Linked DNA regions of Homo sapiens: region 2 is linked to region 1. The links come from fine-mapping of genetic effects on gene expression. Tissue or cell type: thyroid. Region 1 holds a variant in brackets; the other region holds the start of a gene. All regions are shown on one strand. Distances are between the middles of the regions.

Region 1 (12,430 bases):
CTGAAAACGTGTGACTCTCTCATCCTACATCTCATAAAGTCACTCATTCTGTTTATTCTTCTCAATAGCAGAGATTTTCTAAGTACAACAACAATAACAAAATTGCTGCAGGTAAGACTGATCATGCCATTGAGAATGGAGTGGCTTAGGGAAGGGAAAATTGTAGCAGAAGTTTTCAAAACAAAGGACTTTTGGCTCTCAGTGACACACCAGGAAAGTCTAAAGTCCTTCAATTGTCCTTTAAAGTTTCCTCAGGTGGGGGCTGGACACAGTGGCTCACACCTGTAATCCCAGCACTTTGGGAAGCCGAGGTGGGCAGATCACATGAGGCCAGGAGTTCAAGACCAGCCTGGCCAACATGGCGAAACCTCTTCTCTACTAAAAATACAAAAATTAGCCAGCCATGGTGGCACATGCCTGTAATCTGAGTTACTTGGGAGGCTGAGGCACAAGAATCACTTGAACCCGGGAGGCAGAGATTGCAGTGAGCCAAAATTGTGCCACTACACTCCAGCCTGGGTGACAGAGCAAGACTCAGTCTCGAAATAAATAAATAAATAAATAAATAAATAAATAAATAAATAAACAAATAAAATAAAGTCTCCTCAGATGAATTGTTATTTAGAAAAAGGGTCAGAGACTGAGATTTCACTAAGTTCCTGTTGTCTCTGTAATGTCCCCTGCCTCACAGACTAAACCATCTGATTTGTTTAGAAGGATCTGGAATCTCTCTTGGGTTTTTCAGCATCATGCAACAACTTAGGACATTTAGTCGTGTTGCGAGAGCAATTCCAGCCTTGAAAGAAAAGGCCAGGGCAGATGGCTGAAAACAACTTTAAAGGTTGACTGCGTGTTTAATGGTATTTATTTCCTTCCTCTGCCACTCTCAGCCTAATTGGTTCTAAAAGTCGGTATGAGGTAATATACAGAACATGAGCTTTGAAGTCAGGGAGACCTGAGTTCCAATCCCAGCTCTTCCGTGTGTCAGTTGAGCAGCACAGGCAGACTTAACTTAACCTTTCTTTTTTTTTTTTTTTTTTTTGAGACTGGGTCTCAGTCTGTCTCTCAGGCTGGAGTGCAGTGGCACAATCTCAGCTCGGCAACCTCTGCCTCCCAGGTTCAAGGGATTCTCGGGCCTCAGCCTCCTGAGTAGCTAGAACTGCAAGCAGGTACCACCATGCCTGGCTAATTTTTGTATTTTTAGTACAGATGGGGTTTCACCGTGTTAGCCAGGATGGTCTCGATCTCCTGACCTCACGATCCAGCCACTTTGGCCTCCCAAAGTGCTGGGATTACAGGCATGAGCCACCGCACCTGGCCCTTACTTAACCTTTCTGAACATTGGTTGCTTCATGTATAAAATGGGAATACAATGGGCCTATCTCATAAGCTCTTCCTAACAGGTTGTAGAAAGGAAAGGAGAAAGTGTGTGATCCCCTTAGCCTGGTGCCAGCCTCCTCGGAGGAACCCAGAGAATGAGCATGATCATGGTGCTGAAGATGAGATGTTCATGTGGGAAGAGGGAAGAACTTGGCAGTGCTCTTCTCCCACCTTCTAGGGTGGAAATGACCTAAATGTCCTAAAACCTGGCCTCTGCCCTGCATGGATTAACCCGCCCAGCCACTAGAAGGTGGAGGGAAAGACCGAGGCTCCAAAAGGAAAATGTTTGAAAGGCTCAGCATGATGATGAAGGATGGGACCTCGTAGCCTGCACTGTACCACCTGCTTCCTCAATGTCATTTCTGGCACCTCGCACGATGCGTGGGACATGGTAGGCATTGCATGAATATTTACTGAGTGGATCCTCTGGCCCCAGGCATGTGGATGAGCAGAGAGAGCCAGGCCCTGGGCAACTCTGTTGCTTCCTTTGTGCCTGGCCACTCATGGTGGCAGTAGCTTCTGTGCCCTGTCTGTGCCCTGGCCCAACCACTTACTAGCCCTGGGATCCCAGGCAGATTAATGACCCCCCTGAGGCTCAGTTTGCTAATCTGCAAAATGGGGATAACAATTTCACATAGCTGTTTATAGGATTAAAATGTAAGATATAAAAGGCACATCTTACAGTACCTAGCACACAGTAAAAACTTAATGCCAGCTGTTTAAATTGCCATCTTCACTATCATAGTGTTATTACTAGAATTATTATTCTGGCTACATGCTGATTGTTATGTTATTCTAGAACCTGGCTTCTGGCCCCCGGGTCACCAATTTCAGGCCACTCTCAAGCATAGTAATCAATCTTGTTAAGGGCAGTGGCATCTGTCACTGTTCTGAGCTTCCTCCATTGCCAATGAGTGGTTTTGTGGGATTCCCAGTACGAAGCATATGGCCGAGTGGGGTGGCTCATGCCTGTAATCCCAGCACTTGGGGAGGCCAAGGCGGGCAGATCACCTGAGGTCAGGAGTTCATAACCAGCCTGGCCAACATGGTAAAACCCCATCTCTACAAAAAATACAAAAATTAGCTTGGCGTGTTGGCAGGTGCCTGTAATCCCAGCTACTTGGGAGGCTGAGGCAGCAGAATCGCTTGAACCCAGGATGTGGAGGTTCCAGTGAGCTGAGGTCAGGCCATTGCACTCCAGCCTGGGGAACAAGAGCGAAACTCCATCTCAAAATCAATCAATCAATCATAAAAAGAGAATCCTGTGGTTAGAGGACGCCCTCTTCAGGTAGTGACCCTTCTCTTGCAACATCATGTTTATTCAAGGTTGCTCATTCCTGTTCATCCATGTGTGGAATGTCTCTTGGACAGCCTGGGAGTTTGAGGGCTGAAATTGAAGTGAAGCTACTATGTGTCCAGTCATGGGTGGCTGATAAGAGCCTGGGATTTTATTTTATTTTATTTTTTTTGAGACAGTCTCCCTCTGTCGCCCAGGCTGGAGTGCAGTGACACAATCTCGGCTCACTGCAAGCTCCGCCTCCCGGGTTCATGCCATTCTCCTGCCTCAGCCTCCCGAGTAGCTGGGACTACAGTCGCCCGCCACCACGCCTGGCTAATTTTTGTATTTTTAGTACAGACGGGGTTTCACCATGTTAGCCAGGATGGTGTCGATCTCCTGACCTCGTGATCCACCTGCCTCGGCCTCCCAAAGTGCTGGGATTGCAGGGGCCGGGATTTAAATACATCTTCTGCAAAGGGGCTTCCACGTGTAGAAATTTTCTGTCATGCCTAAAATTCAACCCCCAGAGAGTCATTCCTTCTGCATCTGGAGAACATGGTCTTCCAGGGAGCATTATTACATGGCACTACTCCTAGAGAAATCACTCCTGAAGGTGCCATTACAATAGCAGCAGCATAAGAAGAGAAGTGAATATCATTTGCACATTAATATCATTATCTTATGCCAGGCACAGCGCTGAGCCCTTTATGTGCATGATCTCACTATATTCCAACAGTTTGAGGTGGGCATGGCCAGCCCCATTTTTATACATAAGGAAACTGTGCTTCAGGGAGATTAGGAAACATGAGCTAAGTCATGCAATTAGTAGGTGGTGGACCTGGGCACAGTGCCAAAAACTGGGTGGGTGAAAACAATAGCAATTGTTTTTCTGACAGTTCTGGAGATTAGACGTCCCAAATCAAAGTGTCAGCGGGGGAAACCTACCTGGGAGAAACCTTCTGAAACCTGGAGGAGAGACTCTTTCCTTGCCTCTCCCTAGCTTCCCGTAGGGGTCAGTAATCCTTGGTGCTCCTTGGCTTGCAGCTGCCTCGCTCCAATCTCTGTCTCTGCTGTCACATGGCCTTGCCTCTGTGTGCCTGTGTCTTCACCTGGCATTCATCTACCTGTGGGTCTCTCTCCTCCTCCTTTAAGGACACGAGCCATATTGGATTAAGGAGTCACTCTCCTCCAGTGTCAGCTCATCTTAATGTAGGTAATTACATTTGCAATTATCCTCTTTCCAAATGAAGTCCCATTGTGCGGTACTGGGGATTAGGACTTCAATATATCTTTTTGCGGAACCACAATTCAACCCATAACATTCAGTAAAATATGTCACGTGTCATGTGAACTAAAACATGCTCTTACCAAGCAAAAATATGATACCTTGAAGTTCATATTCTATTTCACTCTTAAATTTTTAAAAAACCATATAAAAGCTCCAGGTGGCCACTTGAAGAAGGACAAAATTGAAGGACACTTTCAGTTTCTTTGTCCTTATAATTCCTGTGTTAGCTTTATTTTAAATCTACTGTTTAAATTCAAATAAGTGTATTACTACCAGGGTTGTAGACAAAAACTGTGCCTCAGGTGAGTTCAAATCACTCACAGCTGTGATAAACTTGTTCTCTGAATGAAAGCATGTATTTGTGTTCCCATGTATAATTAGTAGACTTGCCAGATGAAATACAAGACATCTGTTAAATTTAAATTTCAAGCAAACAACAATGTTTATTTTGGTATAAGTATGTCTGAAATAAACATGAGGCATATTTATACTAAAAATCATTTGCAGTTTACCTGGAATTCGAATTTAACTGGGCATCTCTTATCTTTATTGTTAAATCTAGCATCTCTAGCTGAGAGACCTTGGAATTAACTTTCATGTGGAATACAAGGCTTATTAGAGGTTAAGAAACAAAAATGTGCTAAGTTGAAGCTTTCACACATATCATTAAAATTCAATAGTAACCATGACAATTATTTGCAATGGCGACCTACAAAATAATTTTTCAGGAAAGACTATTTTATCACTGACATGATTTAAAACTGCCAAACACAACAATAACAAAAGCAACCTAATTTTTAGTCAGTTTTATAATTGTTTTTACGTTTTCAACAGATAATGCGGCCTCTTATTGTTTGCATGGGAAGCTGGTGGTATCCACTGTCCCACCGTTAGTCCATTACTGACTGTGAATATTAAACATATAACATGAGCGGAACACAGTCTCAAAAGCCCTCTTTCACATCCATTATTCAATTTAATCCTTGTAGTGGCCCTTTGGATAGGCCGATGTGGTTTAAAAAGTATGTAAATGAGAAAGCTTGTGTGACTGACTTACCCACAGCCATGCACTTCCCGCAAGGTAGATCAAGGGCCAGTGGCCCTGTCTGTTAACCTTTTGCCCGGGACACCTTGGTTCTAATGCTAGTTTTACCACAAACTAAACTGACTTGAGCCACTTTATTTATCTTGGCCTCACTTTCCTCATGTATAGAAAAAGACAGAGTTGAGCCAGGTGACTTTTGAGATGTCTTCTAGCTCTGAGATTCTACAGTTCAGATCTTGGGACCAGTTCAGACCCAGGCATTTAGCCTCTTACCGTTGGCTGGGAGCAAGAGAGGAGAGCCGGGACACAGCACAGGGATGTGGGAGTGGTGTCGAAGCATCCCAGACTTTACCTCTGTCATCATTTGGCCCTGGAGCAGTGAAGTGCCGCTGTGCAAACAGCAAACAATACACACTGCACTGCACTCGCCCCTAAAACTAGAGAATGGTGCCAAGGAATCTTGCTGGGAA[C/T]GCCCTTCTCATCAGCTCACACTCACACACGCCAAGAGCATGTACGCACACCGTACACACAAAGTCAAAGGACCGAGACTCTTCAGGTTCTATATGAGAGCCTTATTAAGGACGCTTCAAAATTCTCACCATCAGCCAGTGGACAGGGGGTCAGCAGCCCCATTAATCTACTTCCAGGGTGGGTCTGATCTCATTGACACCCATGTGAATCCAGTGACTTGGTCTCTAGCACAGAGTTTTATTCAAGCCTCAGTGCACTTGCTATCTCTGCCACTCAGTTTTTGTGTTTTATTATTACCTTTGTGAATTTTTAAGATATTATGTGGGTGTGCAGGCAGATGAGGCCTGGAGAGTGTGCTGGGCTGGGAGAAGACAGAAAAGCAGGTAAGGAAGAACATTAAAAGCAAAGAGAAGAGAAAGGCCTGAGGAATCCTCTTATTGCCTGCATCTAACATATATATGTATGTATGTATAATACCTATAATTCATATACATATATATCAAAATAATAACTGCAGCAGTAACAAATAGAACAATAGATATATTTAATTGCAAGACCGAATAGAGTAACATACTTTTTTCCTTCCAAGTTAATTTACGGATTTAACACAATCCCAGAGCTGGAAAAGGCTCTATGAAGCAGACTATCTGCTACGTCAGGGGTGACTTCATAAATCAGCACAACACTTCGAAAGCAAGTTGGAAATATGTGTAAAGAATTAAAAAATATCAAAGCCCATTGGCCATAATTTACCTCTGGGAATCTGCCCTAAAGAAATAATCCAAAATAAAAAAAAACCTATGTGTTCATAGATGCTCAGTACAGTATTTATAATAATGAAAAACTGGAAGGAATTTAAATGCTTACTAATGGAGAATGGTTATGGAAAAACATAAAAGGGATATTATGCAGATATTAAAATTATTGCACAGCAAATAATGTTAAGGAAAAAAGTACAACATAAGTCTCTATTGTTATAACTGGCAAAAAGCTTAGAAGCAAATGTTTTTAAAAGTTGCCTTTTTGATTTGGATGGTAGGTAACTTCTTTCCTTTCTAAATATTCTGTAATTTTCCTGTTATAATAAGAGAAAAGTAAAATGTAGACCAAAATTGAGTTAGTAAAGTGTACTTTATTTTTTATGACGCAACTAACCACATCCCATATTTGGCCTGCCAAATATCACTACTCACCTGGTAGCCTTTTTCCTTAATTGTGGACACAGTCCCTGAGAAGAAAAATATTAATCTTATAAACTAAAACAATTACACAAGAAGTATTTTATCTCAAAGCAGCCCCTGCATAGAGCAGGCCTGGGTACACAGTTTACCGCAGTGAGTCAACCTGCAGGGCTGCACTGGCTCTGGAGCAGGCTCAGGGGAGGGCAGTGTCTATAAAGAGATCTGGCCCATGTAATGTGTTTGTTATATCTCAAGAGGACAAGTTATAGGAAGAACCCAAGAAAGAACCGTAAATGAGATGAAGGCCATTGTTTTTAATCCCCCTGTTTTAACCTGTTCTCATGCTGCTAATAAAAATATACTCACTCAAGACTGGGTAATTTAAAAAGGAAAGAGGTTTACTGGACTCACAGCTCCACATGGCTGGAGAGGTCTCACAATTGAGGCTGAAGGCAAAGGAGGAGCAAAGTCACATCTTACATGGCGGCAGGCAAGCGAGGGCATGTGCAGGGGAGCTCTCCTTTATAAAACCATCAGTGCTCATGAGACTTACTCACTATCACCAGAACAGCACAGGAAAAACCCTCCCCCATGATTCAGTTACCTCCCACTGGGACACTGCCACGACAGGTGGAAATTATAAGAGCTACAATTCAAGATGAGATTTGGGGGGAAACAGCCAAATCATATCACCCTTTCACTACAATTTCTCCATTCAGACACTGGTTTAATCTCCTGCTGAACTATGTGTATTTCTGTAAGCCATCTCAAATTTATATTGGAACAAGATGATTATCTACATAAATAAAACAGTCAGATTAAAACAACATGAGAATCAACTCTACATGCAGCACTATTGAAGGCATATGGGATGAGGGGCGAGCAGTTAGAATTCTCAGACATGGTGCCTCCCGCACAAGAGCCAAGCATCTAGTCGGGGATATATGGGGGGAAATGGGGCCATGAGATATGAAGGTAAATTAAGAGATGAAGGGGTCCAGGCACAGTGGCTCATGCCTGTAATCCCAGAACTTTGGGAGGCCAAGGCAGGTGGATCACCTGAAGTCAGGAGTTCCAGATCAGCCTGGCCAACCTGGCAAAACCCTATCTCTACTAAAAATACAAAAATTATCAAAGCGTGGTGGTGGGTGCATGTAATCCCAGCTACTTGGGAGGCTGAGGCAGGAGAATCACTTGAACCCGGGAGGCGGAGGTTGCAGTGAGCAGAGATCACATCACTGCACTCTAGCCTGGGTGACAAAAGTGAAACTCCATCTCAAAAAAAAAAAAAAGAGATGAAGGGGAAAAAAATTATAAGAAAAGAGAAGGATCAGGGAACTGTAGGTCTGGGAGAGATACCAAAATAAAAAAGACATCCCAAGGAAGACAGACTGCCTTGTGGACCACAGAACACGTAAGAACATAATAGCACCACTATGAAATAAATTGAGTTTTGGTTTGGCTTCATATTTCTGCTTTCTGGTTGAGGTACTGGGGAACCTCATTTGGATTCAAGTGCAAACACATCTTGTTCATTTTGATTTATCTGAGAAATTTCAATCAAGTATCTTAGCACAGCACAGTACTCAGGCTGTCATTCCTTTGAAAAAGACAGGTGATGTATGGGTGCAACCACCGCAGGGTCTTCTGCACGCTGGGCTTTGCGGCTGCCCTGGAAGCTACTAAGCTTATCAATCTTGGCCCTTGGCTGGCACATTCAGCCTCTATTGTTAGAGGCTGCTGAACATGGCTTAGGTCCTGGTCAAAAGATTATGTGAAAGTTTAAACAGACACTGAAATTATTCTGTTTTTCTTTGCTTGAATGATGAACTGAGCTATTATTCCTGAAGGGTATGGCCTGGGTTTTTATTACTATGCAGATGAGCTAAGGTTATTTCACTCTGCTGTCAAATTAAAAAGCTGTGCTTTCTTTTTGAACAGCTCACACGATGCTGGGACAGGGACATCACTGAATTTTTCTGCAGCAAATTGAAGACCAAATGGGAATTTCTGCCTCAATCAGCATCCATTGGGAATCAACTTGATGTGAGGCGTTATGCTAAATAAGGCAAGTTAAAGAGATATATACAGATGACATGAGCCCTGCTTCCAGGTTGCTGAGAAGGAGCACCTCACAGAGATCAAACAGAACATTTACGTACGAAAAAGAGTTCAATAATGGCATGAGGAGGCAATGTGAATAATTTCAGGCTGGAGAGTAGGAAAGTCATTAAAATATATTGATTGCAAGCCCTACCTGATCTGCCATCCAGCCCCCACCCTCAGCTCTGCCTTAATCTCCTCCAGTTCTGCCTTCTCCTCCCTATGCTCCAGGCACTCTGGCCACCTCCCTTTTCCTGGAGCATGTCAGGCAGGCTCACATCCAAGGGCCTCTGTCCAGGCTCTCTCCTTTGTCTGATAGCTCTTCCCCAGATGTCTACATGTCTTCTCCCTCACTTCCTGTAGGCTTCTATGCACAATTCACACTGAGAAAAGCCTTCCCTGACCACCCTATCTACACTTGCAACTCCCCTTCCAAGACCCACTCTCTGCATTATTTTTGTCAGCACCTACTACTGTCTAACATAATGCATGATTTACTTGGCCATATTGCTTTTTATCCTGGTCCCTCTCTTAAATATAAGCTATAAGCTTCAAGAAGGCAGGAAATTTTGTCTGCTTTTTTTTTTTTCTTGCTCTGTCGCCCAGGCTGGAGTGCAGTGGCGTGATCTCAGCTCACTGCAAGCTCTGCCTCCCGGGTTCACACCATTCTCCTGCCTCAGCATCCCGAGTAGCTGGGACTACATGCACCCACCACCATGCCCGGCTAATTTTTTGTACTTTTAGTAGAGACGGGGTTTCACCGTGTTAGCCAGGATGGTCTCGATCTCCTGACCTCGTGATCTCCCCGCCTCGGCCTCCCAAAGTGCTGGTATTAGAGGCATGAGCCACGGCGCCCAGCCATTTTGTCTGCTTTGTTACTGCTACATCTCCACAGCCCGGAGCAGTGACCAACACGTGGTGGATATTCCTGAATATTTCTCACATGAATGAACTAATTGCCTCTTGCTTCTCTTGCACTGTGCGAAGTGCTTTATGTAAGACGTGTATTTGAACACTCTTGGCAATTCCATGAGGCAGATGTTATTTGGAGGAATTACAATGTGTCCCCTCGGGCCCACAGCAATGTTTTAGAGTCCTCATCAGGGCAAGGTCTGTTGGATGTTTCCCATAAGGTTTCACAGGGCAGTGTTCCTCACTTTGGTAAATTTACTCTGGACCAAGGTGTATGGACTTTGGCCTCGCTGGATCAGAAACACTTTTTCAAATTGCCAACGTTTTCATTAACAGTGAGAGAGAAAACTGCCCAATGAACAGGCGTGAACACCACGTGCTGAGTATATTCCTTTCTATGAAGTCAGACCCACATGGGAAGCCAACCGAACAACAGCACCACTGCAAGCCTCCAGCATTTATCTCTACGTTAGGACTTTCCCCCACAAAGCTCAGCCCAAGTCAAAGCTCCCTCTGCTTTGGGCAGAGCTTGGTGAGAGAGCTGATTCATCTCCTTTGCTCCTGTTTTCATTCTCCATGCTTCTCTTTCCTGCTCTGTGCCCCAAGACCCCAGCCTTTACAGCTTGCCTGCTGGGTTTATTTCTTTTGACTTCTGGTCAGACACCAGTGGGAGTCACCAGCAGGACAGTTGATGAACAGGAAGAGAAGGAATCGGGATATTTCCCCAAACTTCCCACTGCAGGCTCATCAATTTGGCGGTGGCTATTTTCATGTACAGCCGAGCTCTATCTAGCCAGGTCCAGTGATGTCATTTCTCCTTCCAAGCCTGGGGCAGCGGCGGAGGAGGGGATAGCTCCCAACTGTGCAAAAGCCCTGGAGGTTCCACCATCTCTTGTTGGTTCTCTTAGGTCTATCCACACCTTTGTTAACCTCCTTATGAAACTCTCTTCAATTAATCTTTAAGTGTGCTACCTGTTTTCTACCAGCACCCAGACTGATACAATGTCACTGCCAGGGATTGACTTGAAGGCTTTCCATTGTCTGTACTTCAAAGATTAATCAACTCACCAACTCGTCTATGAATTAACTAGTGCTTTTCTTGAGCAGTGCCGTCCAACAGACCTTTCTGTGTTGACGGAAATGTCCTCGATCTATGTTGTCCCACTAGCCACATTATCGGTGGGCACTTAAAATGTGACCAGTGAGACTGGGGAACTAAATTTTTAACTTTGTTTAAATTTACTCAATTTTAGTTTAAATAGTTACACGTGAGCCACCATACTAGCTGATGCAGGTCTGGCCATGTCATCAGTCAAGTACTGTTGACCTGGTAGTTATTTTTCCTTCAAATGACATATCTGTGTCTCATCATTTATGGGAGCAGTCTTCCTAATTTCCAAGATATTGATGGAAAACTCACCATAGCCCCCAGGAACTACAACAATATTATCTAGAGAGATTAAGCAACTTGCCAGCATGGGCTGCATGACAATACTTATGACAGCGTTAGTTAAACAAGAGAACAGTGTTACACAGGAAACTATTTCATGGGTTCCCTGTTTCTGTAGGAGAAGTGGAACAAAACTTTCCCCCTTCATCCCGATAGCAAAGAATTCAGCAGCAAGCTAACAATATCACAGTAGCATGTAAGTTCCTGGCGGATAGTGACTTGCTGATAGTGAATTAGGAAGGGGAATTGGACATGCACAGGACGGGCTTTCTCCTCCTCCTAGGAACCAGCTGTCTGTAGGAAACCTACGATCAGCTCTGCTCCTCCAAGGAAAACTGCAATCAGCTCTGCTTCTCCATCAGGAAACAGTATAGGGAAGGCTGCCAGGTGGAGAGCCTGAATTGACCTGAGGTGTAGGTGTGTCTGATCCGGGGGCTCAGTGCCCAAATTCCTTCTGGTCAGCAGGTACAAACTGCCCTAGCATTTATCAGTAATAAAAGGGTCATCTAGGTGTTCCATCTGCCTTCCTCTTGTCTAATTTTTTAAAATTTTACTTTAGTAGCTTTAAGGGTACAAGTAGTTTTTGGTTACATGGATGAATTATATAATGGGGAATTCTGATGTGTTAGTGTCACAAGAGTAGTGTACATTGTACCCAATATGTAGTTTTATATCCCTCACCTCTCCACCCTCTGCACTTCTGAGTCTCCAAAGTCCATTATACCATTCTGTATGCTTTGCATACCCATAGCTTAGCTCCCACTTGTATGTGGTAACATATGGTATTTGGTTTTCCATTCCTGAGTTACTCTACTTAAGGTAATGATTAACTCCATCCAAGTTGCTGCAAAAGACATTATTTCATTCTTTTTTATGTCCGAACAGTATTCCATAGTGTATATATATATTTTCTTTATCCACTCATCAGTTAATGTGCACTTAGGTTGGTTCCATACCTTTGCAATTGTGAATTGTGCTATGATAAACATACATGTATGGGTGTCTTTTTTAATATAATGATTGACTTCTTTTTCTTTGGGTAGATATCCAAGTAGTGAGATAGCTGGATAGAATGGTAGATCTACTTTTAATTCTTTGGGAAATCTCCATGCTGTTTTCCACTGAGGTTGTACTAATTTACATTCCTACCAGCAGTGTATAAGTATTCATTTTCACCACATCCACACCAACATCTATTATTTTTGACTTTTTAGCAATGGCCTTTCTGGCTGGGGTAAGGTGCTATCCCATTGTCGTTTTAATTTGCATTTCTCTGTAGATTAGTGACGTTGAGCATTTTTTATATGTTTGTTAGCCATTT
Region 2 (12,430 bases), 38 kb after region 1:
GAGGACTAGAAACAGTATTGGAGCATTAAGTGTCATGTAAATCTTTAGTGACATGTTTCTTCCTTGGAATCTAACTAGGAAATACTGTCTTAAAAAAAAAAAAGTAAGATTGGAGTCTTTTGTTCCTGGGCATTTAATGAGACTGTTTATTCAAACAATTTGGAAACTCTGCTTGCCACATACCAAAACTAACAATGAAATTCATACTTTTAAGTTCAGTATTGGGCAGGAATTCTTCTTTCATTAAAGACTCTCAAGATAATTTCTGAAGCCCAGAGGCATTCTTCCTTTCTCTCTTGTGTGAACCATTTCTCTATTAAAAAGAAGTGTGGATTTGAGACTCTACAGGAACGTACTAAAGTGAAGCTCACTTATAAAATCAACTATATTACAGATTTCTTTTAAAAAATCTCCTCCATTCTTTTTATCCTTCTGGTATTGATTCCTCTGTCTCTTCTCATTTTCTTCTTCCTTGTTTTTTCTTTATATTTCCTCTCTGGGTCAGAATTTGATCTAAAAGAATCACTTGGAATTGTTTGGTTTTCCATCAATACCTTCTTATTGTACTTAAGATGAGTCACACACTGGGTGCGGTGGCTCACACCTGTAATCCAGTGCTCTGGGAGGCTGAGGTAGGAGGATGGCTTAAGGCCAGGAGTTCAAGACCAGGCTGGCCAACATGGCAAAACCCCATCTCTACAAAAAATAAAAAATTAGGCCGGGCGCGGTGGTTCACGCCTGTAATCCCAGCACTTTAGGAGGCCGAGGCGGGTGGATCATGAGGTCAGGAGATCGAGACCATCCTGGCTAACAAGGTGAAACCCCGTCTCTACTAAAAATACAAAAAATTAGCCGGGCGCGGTGGCGGGCGCCTGTAGTCCCAGCTACTCGGGAGGCTGAGGCAGGAGAATGGCGTGAACCCGGGAGGCAGAGCTTGCAGTGAGCCGAGATTGCGCCACTGCAGTCCGCAGTCCGGCCTGGGCGACAGAGCGAGACTCCGTCTCAAAAAAAAAAAAAAAAAAAAATTAGCCAGGCCTGGTGGCACATGCCTGTGGTCTTAGCTACTTGGGAGGAGCGTTTGAGCTTGGGAGGTTGAGGCTGCAGTGAGCAGTTATCAAGCCACTGCACTCCAGCCTGGGTGATAGAGTAAAACCCAGTCAAAAAAAAAAAAAAAAAAAAGAGTTGTTGCTTTGTTCAGGCTCAAAAGCTTGTGTGTGACTTGCAGGTCTTCAACTCTGAACCCAGGACTGAGTAGAAACTGGAGCCGAGTCATCTACACATCCAGCCGGCCATGAACCAGTGCAGCTTTGGAGGTAGCTCCCATCTGCTCTCCATCAAGAGACATAGGTGCTGTCTGTTAGAAGAGAGACCCGATGGTGACTTGCTTCACTTTCACTCTCAAATTCAGTAAGGTAAATGAGCTAGTTAAGTTAACGTAGTGTAATAACTATGTAAAGAGATTAGGCATCAGAAAGTCTTTGTTTTAATTCTGTATGCCACTGACTAGTTCTGTGATATTTAAATTGGTGAATGTGGCAATATAATTTCTATGAATCTAGAACCCTCTCTGTGAAGGGTTCAGGGAGCTACCCTCTTTCATATTTCTCTATTTGTGTAGAATGATCTGTCATCTATGGGCCATGCCCTTTCACTAGAAGCTATGCCAGGTGTTGTATACATTTAATTGTCCTTAAAATACCAACACACCAGTCAAAACCAACTCTGTTTCAAACTTAAACAATGGCACTTATCGAAGAGGCCATAAGCTGGCTCTGATTCAAACATACACTTAGAGGAAGAGGCAAAGTGTCTTACTTTACCAAAGGGCAGAATGCACTTCAACTTCCAGTTAGAGAAATCTGGAGGACACTTGGAGCCATGCATGGGGTGTGTGTGGGAGTGGGCGAGCCTTTGGTGCCAAAGAGGGAAATGCCTTCCTCAGCTAAAGGGCCAGAGGGAATGTCGGGGGTTTCAAAACCAGGAAGAAGTGGAAGGAAGGAAAGAAGTAAAACTTGTGTATGTTGCGCATCCCATAATAAGCCAGACACTGTCATCTTATGCATCTCATTTCATTCCCATCCTATTAAATGACAGTCTGGGTTTGGTGGAAAGTCTATCTCAGACTGAGTTTAGGAACTCACTCAAAAACCAGAATGAAGAAGATGATTATCTAGCCTTATATATGTTTCAGTAAAGTCCAGGAAGTGCCATTACTGCTTTTTCAACATTTCTCATAGCCAATTAACTTTATTTCCATATATTTTAGTGGCTCTCAACCTTGGCCACACATTAGTATCCCCTTGGATGCTTTGAAAAAATGCTGATATCTGCGCTCCATCTCATCCCAATCAAATAACTCCTTGGAGGAGTAGACAAAGAGGCAAATGTTACAAAGAAAATCTCCCTGGGTTATTTTAATATGTACTTGAGAACTGCTGTACTCATTTGCAGAAAATTCCTTATAAAACTAAAAGGGATTTGTGCACTTTTTGCAAAGATTGCCTGTAAGAGAGAAGCTAGGAAATGGAAACGCATTTCTGAATCTGGTCCAAAAAAGAGATGAGATTTGATTTTATGAGTCTAGTAGACCTTATCAAAACTGCCTGGGAAGATCCAAGGAACACCAGAATATTAGAAAAAGTTTGCTTCTGCTCCTTTCTCAGAGCTTTGACCCATAAAAAAGCACTGGTTACCATAGGCCACTGCAGATGTCCCATATCGTTGGGATAGCGACTGTCCAATTCCACCCATAAGTTTGAGGTGAGCAGTTCTCTGAGACACGGGCTGCTTGTCACTGTATTACAGAAATATAAGAAACCACCGGGCATGGTGGCTTACACCTGTAATCCCAGCACTTTGGGAGGCTGAGGCATGCAGATCACGAGGTCAGGAGATTGAGACCAGCCTGACCAACATGGAGAAATCCTGCCTCTGCTAAAAATACAAAAAATTAGCCAGGCGTGGTGGCACACACCTGTAGTCTCAGCTACTCTGGAGGCTAAGGCAGGAGAATCACTTGAACCCGGTAGGTGGAGGTTGCAGTGAGCCAAGATCGTGCCACCACACTCCAGCCTGGAGACAGAGCGAGACTCCATCTAAAACATATATATACACACATACATACATACACACACATACATATATACACATACACATACACACACACACACACACATATATATATGTATATATATATATACACACACACATATGAGAGACCAGAAATGTCTAATTAGCAACTCAGAGTGTGGATTTTAGAGAAAGAACTCCATAAAGGTAACTCTTGGAAAAACATTAAATATTACAGTAATGTAATTGATTCAAAGATGAATGTAAAGACCAATAATTTATCTTGGTGTTTATGAAGATGAAGAAATAAAGGCCCATACAGAACCATACACAAATGAAAATAGTTCAAAATCAAATCTAACTGCTCACAGAGAGCTGAAAACACAGCAGACCCTAAATATATTTTTAATGATTGATGAACTGATTAAGATTTATTTTGAGATTTGATCAGTTTTTAGTAAAGTTTAAATGTTTTTGTATTTTTCTTTCATTTGTACGTTACATTCACTGTGGTACAAGTGTATACCTGCTCTAACAGTTAAAAAGTGGTTGAGGTTTCTGATGCTGATCATAAAATATGACAGGAAAAATACTCTATTTTATAAAGAAAACATATGAAGGCAATTTTCATTGTCTGTAGAACTGAAATAAGGATTAATCTTTATCTCAGAAAAAGTGCAAAGTGGCTTATCCTGTCTTTCTGGCAACAATAGGGCTGGCAGTGTTGCACAACTCCAGGGGGCGCCTTACACATAGTGATCTCTGTGCTTGTCCCCTGCCCACCCACAGTTGTACAAGGGCCATGCTATGCCATTTTACTTGACAGCCCTGGGCAGCAGGGCTCCTAAGCAACAGTCCAAAAGGAAGGCCAAGGAACACATCCATTAAAATGTAGGCTATTTGTTTCATGGTATTCATTACCACGAATAAATGACAAATTAAAAATATTAGTAACCAATAAATAGATGTTTAGCTTTCTCTTTAAGTTCTGGCAGTGAACGCTGCAGCAGAGCATTCCTGAACACATGTTGGTGCTACCATGTTCCATGTCTGTGACTCGTCAGTGGCCAGCCCCTGTCAGCAGTCTTCCCCACATTCGTCCCTATAACACATCCTAGATCATGGAGGGGGGAAATGTTTTCCTCTGAGAGTACTGGCCCAAAGGGAGGGAAAAAGTAACTGAAGGCCCCACAAGTAATAGGCCACCTGATTTTTTTTTAGAGCATTATAAAACATTCTTGGCCAGGCGCAGTGGCTCACGCATGTAACCCAGCACTTTGGGGGGCCAAGGTAGGCAGATCACCTGAGGTAAGGAGTTTGAGACCAGCCTGGCCAACATGGTCAAACTTAGTCTCTACTAAAAAACAAACAAACAAAAAAAAAAAACAAAAACAAAATACAAAGTTAGCCAGTTGTGGTGACAGGTGCCTATAATCCTAGCTACTTGGGAGGCTGAGGCAGGAGAATCACTTGAACTCAGGAGGCCGAGGTTGCAGTGAACCAAGATTGCATCACTGCACTCCAAGCCTGGGCAAAAAGAGTGAAACTCCATCTCAAAAAAAAAAAAAAAAAAAAAAATTCGAATTGTCTACTTTTGAAATTAAGGGAAAAACATCTACCTTTTCTCTTCCAGACCATGCCAATTAAAAGAGGAAATTCCAGGAGTCAGCAGAAAGGAAACAAAAAGAGAAGGTGATAGAGGAGAGGGGAGACCAAGTGAAGAGGATGGAGAAGAAACTATAAAAATAAGAGAAGAAGAAGAGTTCATGGCAAATATAGGAAAGAGCCACGAGACAAGAAGGATGGAAATGGGCAGATGAGAGAAAAGGGAAGAGAGTCTGGGTTCTGAGTTGTTTGCATTATTTGTGTACAGCGTGCGTTCCTTTGGGCTGTCAATATTATTTCAAGATAGAAGCACCAAGGTGTTTCCTTACCTAATCTCTGAAGTGGCAGACCATCATCACTTCTGCCGGGTTCTATTGGTCAAGCATACCAACCTTTACAAAGTGGCAGGGAGCTATGCAAGGATGTGAATACCAGGAGGATAGGATCCCTGGGAATGACTTGGAAGGTAGGTGGCATGGTGGGCAGAACCCACAGCCTAGGGTGAGATGGCAGGAATGTGGAATTCCAGTACCTTAATGTGATATGAACTGATCTGAGTGAATGTGTTTGAACACTCACCACATGCCAAGAGCTCTTCTAATCTCTTTGCATGTAGCATCTCATTTAACCCTCTTGACAACTTACCGAGGCAGACACTCTTTATCTAGAGGAGGAAAGTGAGGTACAGAGGTTAGTAGCACAGTGATAAAGCTGTTATAAGGAAGGACTTGCCAGGACCTGGAGAGAGACTGGGTGTGAGGAAGGTAGGCTGTCACAGTGTCCTGTGGGATTTTTCCTAACTGATAAACCACCCTGTATGGTTCAACTGATGCATCCATGCAGGGCTAGGATTCATTCTGACCTCGTCATAGCAGCTTTCCAGGGGCCAATCCCACTCCAGCCTAAAGCACCCCATATGCTATCATTTAAACTGCAGTAGGAACTAAGCCTTACACCAGAAATTCCTCCCTGATGGGATTCCTGGAATTGTTCCTAAATAGCTGGGTCTTATTTCCTGACAATGCCGCCTGCCCCGAGGCTTGATGTAACTCTGCACAGCTTCTGCAGTTTGGAGAGGCAGGGAAATGCCATTTTGTGTTTGAATCCAGCAGGTCAGGCTCCTAAAGAGGTCAGGTAGTCCGTGGAGAGGACTACTGGTGTTTACTGTTTATTACATCTCTCCCAATACACAAAATCTGGGGTTCACCAAAGCAGGCGGTTTTCTTCCACATGCTCCTCTAGGATGGAAAATGCCCTCCAGTGGAAATGCCTTTCCACTGTGCTTCTGCTCAATTTTCCTCCAAGATTTCCTCTAACTGTGGACTGCCAGCTCCTCCCTGACGTCTTCAGGCACCAAGCCAACCTGTTCTTGTTGCAATCCTCAAGACTCCTTTCAGCATCTTAACTTTTCCCCCAGTTTTCTTTCATTTTCTCCACCTGTCTGTGTTGACTGCGGTCTCCTTCCTTCCAGCCTTTTCCTTCCTTCATCTTGTCCTACAAAGCCACACGTGTACCGACAAGTGCCAAAGAGTTTGATCATTTACTTAATGTCAACAAAAGAAAAAAAAAAAAAGCTCCAGAGTCGCCTTGGCCTGCAGCACCCAAGCAGAGTGAACAAGTGGGGCCTGCGCACCCTCCTACCCTACACCTAGCAAGGAACCCCGAGCTCTGAAACGTGGAAAGGCCCAGATCTGCAGATTTAATCTAAGTCCTGCAGTCCCCAAGAGATCACAGACTGCAGATCCCTGTCTCATGAACTAAGAGAGGAGAGGACAAGCCTACCCCGGACTACCGCAGCTCGGGGACAGCGCGCGGGCCAGGCGGCCCGAGATGCGCAGGCCACGCAGCCTCGCCGACGAGTGGCCCTGGAGAGCCTCCAGGCGCCCGGGTGGGGCCGCGATTGCGCCCCGCCAGTCACCCCGGCATGTGGGCGCGGCGGGGCGGCGCGGGCGGGACGGCTACAAGAGCTGTTTTGCGTCCGGGCCGGAGTATTTGCTCAGCCCGCCTGCGCCGCTTGGGACGCCTCTGCCTTTCCCTCCCTCCCTTCCCCGACGGCTTCTGGCGGCCAAGTGGATGTGGCGGGTGATCGAGCCACCCTGCCCAGGGGCGCCCAGCACTGGTAGGTGCTGGGGGTGGGGCGAGGCTTTGGGGAGAGTGTGCGTGGGGTGGGAGTAGGGGGAAGGGAATTTCCTCGGAGGTTGCATGGGTGCATGGGAGGCGCAGGGGCCAGAGCGGGCGGGCGGAAGCCTCACCCCCGCCTCCACCCCTTCGCGGCGCCCGGGGCGGGCTCAGGTGCGGGGTTGGGCGGCGAGAGCGGCCGCGGCGGGTGTCCGGTGTCCGGTGTCCGGTGTCCGGTGTCTGGAGCCGCTGGCTAGGTGAGCGGCGGTCCCCGGGGCCTGGGGGCTTGCAGGGGGTGGCGGGGGAACTTCGAGGGAGAGGGTCTGCCGGGGCTGAGGACCTTCGGGGAAGTTCTGGAATCCGGCAGGGACACGCGGCGCGTGCTTCCACCCGCGGGGAGTGCAGGCCCCGGGAGGGTCCGGGCTGGCCTAGAGTTTCTAGACTCCTAGCAGGAGCACGTCCTCGACTTGCGCATGGAAATCTTCCAGGAGGGAAGTCCCGGGAAACGGTGGCAGCTGGCGCAGCACCCCCGCAGCACGTTCCCCGCGCACCGGCACCCAGGGGCGCCCCCACGTGGGGTCTGGGAGCGCGCGGAGGCCAGTGCAGCGCCGCCTCCCTCGGGCTGCAGCGGCGGGGCTGGCCCAGACCCAGACCGGGTGCCCAGTGCGCTCAGCCAAGCGGCGCCCCTGCCCGCTCCTGGACTCGGGGGTCACGCGGGCACCGGAAGGAGCTACAGTTTGTAGGTTTTCTGAGTTGTCTCTCCCTTCCCAGGGAGCTTAGAGAAGCAGCAAGCGTGGCACCTCCCCCTTTCAAACAGATGCTCCTCATCGCTCCAAAGGCTTTCGTTTGATTGCTGGTTTAATAGAAACAACGACTTGGGTACGATTATTTTAAAATAGTGAATAAATAAGTGGAAAGCATACAGGGGCATAGATTTGGCATATGAGTGGAATTCTCTATGTATACTAAATCTGTGTGTACAGTAATCTCAAATTTCTGAAGAATAGTATATATTTACAAACTGCTGTCATCTCTGGTAATTTGTTTCATCCTCAAAAACAGCCCTTTTGCTGGTAGATGAATAAGATAAAGTTTCAATAAGAAAACAAAGTTGGACCACAGAGCTGGCTGTTTTAAAAGAATTAGAATTCAAACTGTATTGTTAATGTTATAGTTACACTGTCCATACCACAATACTTTTATTTATTTTTTATTTTATTAGGTCGGTGCAAAAGTAATTGCGGTTTTTACGTAAAAAAAACCGCAGTTACTTTTTTTTTGGCCATGTAAAACACAATAACTTTTGCACCGACCTAATGTTTTTAATTTTTGAGACAGGGTCTCCTTCTGTCACCCAGGCTGTGGTGCAGTGGTGCGATCTCGGCTCACTGTAGCCTCAAACTCTCCAACTCAAGAGATCCCCCCACCTCAACCTCCCAAGTAGGTGGGACTATAGGTGCGGGCCACCACGCCTGGCTAATTTTTATACTTTATGTAGAGACGGAGTTTTGCCATGTTGCCCAAGCAGGTCTTGAACTCCTGAGCTCCAGCAATCCACCCATGTCCACCTCCCAAAGTGTTGGGATTACATGTAGAACCACTGTGCCCGCCTACTATTTTTATGATTTAGCCTGTATCTAAGGCCTTTTAAAATTGTATTTTGTTTAGGTCTCAGAGTTATTCAAAAGACAGTTGTATTGTAGAACAGTGTGAAGGTGTGAGAATCAGGCCAAATCTATGGTATCATGGAAAACAACGGATTCTCTGACCTTTTAGCAATTGGTGTTCAGAATAAATAGCAGGTGTGGGCTTGTTGCTTATCATTTCTCTCTTTTAAGAAAGGGGCTGTGTTAGCTGAGCTATTCCTTTGTTGGATCTTGAATAACCGGAGATTTGCTGCCCTTGATATAGTATGGGAAAGTCCTCTGAGTTTGAATCAGTATCAGCAATGATTACTTCCTTGTCAGGGAGTGAAAGTAGGAAAGCCCTAGTTAGTTAATTTCCTGATTTCTATTTCTTCTACCCTGGCTCCACCAGGCTCCTTCGCTTCACAGTAGATTATGTCAGATACCCACACATTAGAAGTCACAGACTGAACCAGTCCTCGTTTCACAGATGAGGAAACTGAGTCCCAAGGAGGTGAGGTGACAGCACAGAGTCACACCGCTCACTAGAGGCGGAGCTGGGAGTTGAGGCTGGAGTGCCTCTGGGTGTCTTGGGTGTACTGTGCTGAGCTTGAGTTGGGGTCTGAGAAAGCCTTGGAGCGGGGGTTAGGGGTTGGGAATTAGAGGGTGAGGGGGACAGGTGATTTACACCAGTACCATTCAGCAGTGGCAGAATGGCCACATCGTCAACGGCCTGACCACAGATAGTTGTCGGCTGGGTCCCCCAAGTATTCTTGGAGGCACAAGGAAGCCAGTGTCTTTCCTTCAAGATGAACTAGTTAATTTTAATGTTAGAAATCCACGTTTGCTATAAAAAGTAAAACAAAACAACATAAAAATGGAAATAATGTGAGAATTTCATCACAGAGGTGCCATGAACCTCCTTGCACATGTGAGAGGCTGTGCTTTTTGTGCTGTTCTTAGTGTTTGTTTGGAAGGGGAAATTGTAGAGACGAAGTGGATGACTAAGTGCAAGGGGAAATGGGACTAAGTGTCTGGTGAATACGTGGGTAAGCAATGTCCACACCTGGGTCAGTGTGACAGTCGGTTCCTTGCTGTCCTTCCTGGCTGGGGTGTGTGCACCTGGCCTCCCCTAAGCTTAGCTACAGTTGACCAGGAGGAGGCTTCTGCCCTGTGTCAAGCACCATCAGTTCAGCGTTTCTGTTGCTGCAGGAATTTGCTGGCTTCCATTCTGAAATTTCATACATGGCACCACATCCTGCTGTTCTGATTCTGGGCACACAAATAAACTCACAAAAAGGCCTCTGTGTTGTGTATTACAGTGAAGCTGAGTTAGAGCTGGACTGCCCGGCTCTGCCGCTTACCAGCTGCTGACCTGTGCTCTATCTTCCTAATCTGTGAGATGGGCATAGTGATGGGCTGGACTCCAAGGGTTATTGTGAAGATTAAGTGAGTTAACACATGTAGAGTGCTTAATTAAGATGGTGCCTGGTACAAGAAGTGTTAGCTGTGTTATCAGGAATATGCAGGGCGGGGGAGACTGGAGGAATATGACTTTGACACTTTAAGGGTTTTAGATTCTAGGATCTACCCATGCCTTGAATAGGATTCGCTGCATTCAAAATGGGGAACACAGCAGAAGTCTCAACCCCAGCTGAACTGTTCATCTTCTGCCGTGTGTGATTTCTGCGAAAACCAACCATTGAACTTAAGGACATTTACTGGAATGTCAAGGAGTCATTCTGTCTCCTTTCTTACCACTTTATCTTGGAGCTTGTGGATTTCATTGGCTCCACCCTTTGAGAAGCTGCTAGAAACAAAAAGTCAAAAGTCAAGAAATCTTGACAAGACATCCATTTTTTTTTTTTTTTTTTTTTTTGGCTGTTCAAGCCTTTAAGGGTATCTCAATGCAAAATACAAAGTTGGCAAGTGGATCTGGGAAGGGCGTGATATTACTTTTAGTCCTTTAAAATTTTTCTCTTAATGTTTGGTTCCATTTGGATTCTGGTAGTTGAATGCTGCCGAGATGATAGGTTGCAGTCAGTAGGGATAGGTGTAGTTTCATCAAGGGCCTGGCTTCACAATGAACAGTCAGCGAATCTAAGAGCTGAGTATGCACACCACTCTGTGGTAGCCTAGCTGTTGAGCGTGCTTGTCTCAAAAGACAGGTGTAAATCAAGGAACTACTTTGCACGGAAGAGGAGGAAGACGGGAAGCTGAAGGAGGCCCCCAGATGGTGAGAGGGGCATTACAAATCTAACTGTATCAATGACAAGGTGAACGAAGAGAAACCAACAACACTACGATGGTCATAATATAGCTAAGTGACTTGTCTGAAGTTTAAGACTGTTTGAACATAGTATGGAGAAACAACGTATTTGAGAGCACATGGCAAGGTGGTAAGATTATTGAGGTGTTATTATAAATAACAAATTATTGGTCAATTTCTTTTTTTTTTCTTTTTTTATTTTTGAGACAGAGTCTCCCTCTGTTGCCCAGGCTGGAGTGTAGTGGCGCGATCTCGGCTCACTGCAACCTCTGCGTCCTAGGTTCAAGCGATCTCCTGTCTCAGCCTCTTGAGTAGCTGGGATTACAGGCACCCACCACCATGCCCAGCTAATTTCTGTATTTTTTGTTTTTTTAGTAGAGATGTTGGTCATACTGGTCAGACTGGTCTCGAACTCCTGACCTCGTGATCCCCCCTCTTTGGCCTCCCAAAGTGCTGGGATTACAGGCGTGAGCCACCCCGCCTGGCCTATTGGTCAATTTCTTAGGACACATGTGATTCTGAAAAGTTGTAGTAAGTTTTTTTTCTTATATCTTATTACATCGAATCCAAAGTCTTTTGTTTTCCAGAATAGATATATTTACATAGTTTCCTGCTGATTACAAAAGTATGATGGTTTATGGGACTTAGAAATTGTTTAAAAATAGAGAGAGAAAGTATGACAGTGTGGTAATATTTTTAAGCCAATATTTTAAAATAGAAATGTGGAAAGTAGAATGAAACCTCAGTAGGATTTCCAACCACAGGAGAACTTCTAGGAGGCCACTGTGCACTCTCGCTTTATGGTTTCTCTTTCAAGGAGCCATGCGGTAAAGTCATATAAATGAAGGATCCTTTGTTATGAACCTAATGACCTCTTCATCCCCCTAGTTTATCTGGTCTGTCCATTTAGATTTTATTAAACTAGGTTATCTGGAAAAAGCACACCTAAAACTCGGTGACCTTCCAGAATGTAGATGGATGTTCTCTCTTGCACCTGCCCTGATTTTCATGGCTCTAGTAGGTTATCTGGAAATTACATTATCCTTTTGTGAAGAGGAAAGTACATAATTTTGTTTATTTAATGCTACTTTTTAGGGAAATTGCAGAAAATGCATGGTGGTCTAGTTTTTATTTCTTCCTTTTTCTTCCTTGAGCATGGCTCTATTTTGGTTTGGTTTGGGATGAGTTACTCTGTGACATATCAAAAGTGGTATTTTCTTTTGAAATAGGTACTTTGCAGAGAGCCTTTTAATTTCTTCCTGTGACTTTTTTTTTTCTTTCTTTTTTCAGCCACACAGTTGGTGGTTTGTTAGGCTCTGGGGTAATAATGTGTTTGCTTAGTTGGGAGCTGGACAAACCTCTGTGAACTTTTTTTGTTTGCCTGAGATTGACCTGTATAAAGTTAGGGTTTGTTTTCTTTTTTTTTTTGACAGAGTATCTTTAGAAATTACAGGATAGAGGTTATACAAACTCTTAACAAAGTGTGCCTCAGATTTTCTTCTTCTCTTTTCTCTCTGAACTGAAAAGTGATACTGTGTTTCCTCCTAGCTTTTTTTTTTAAACCCGTCCTAGCCAGTGTCCACACATTTTAACACGCTGCCTGAATGTGGGCTCTTTCTCTCTGCAGGTTCAGTGAACAGCATTTTGGACAGGACATTTGGTGCCAGGTCTGAGTAGCCAGTTTGCTGAATTATTGTCCCAGTCAGCCAGGATTGTGAGCTGTTTGGGAAGTTTCGTGGAAACG

Evidence for each region. PIP is the estimated chance that this variant, and not a neighbour inherited with it, causes the effect.
Region 2: it holds the start of SH2D4A, and the variant in region 1 is fine-mapped to the expression of SH2D4A in thyroid (GTEx, PIP above 0.99).

The regions. Positions count from the first base shown.
Region 1 is chr8:19,268,676-19,281,105 of GRCh38, forward strand. LOC105379300 (a long non-coding RNA gene) reads left to right here. Exons shown (of 5, transcript XR_949537.2): 5 at 8,586-8,706. Among named protein-coding and RNA genes, the nearest start is that of SH2D4A, 39 kb to the right of the region's middle. The variant C/T (reference allele first, on the strand shown) is at 5,463.
Region 2 is chr8:19,307,031-19,319,460 of GRCh38, forward strand. It overlaps SH2D4A (SH2 domain containing 4A), which reads left to right and starts at 6,663. Exons shown (of 10, transcript NM_022071.4): 1 at 6,663-6,793; 2 at 12,314-12,430. It overlaps LOC105379306 (a long non-coding RNA gene), which reads left to right. Exons shown (of 4, transcript XR_949550.3): 3 at 1,226-1,412; 4 at 4,703-4,794.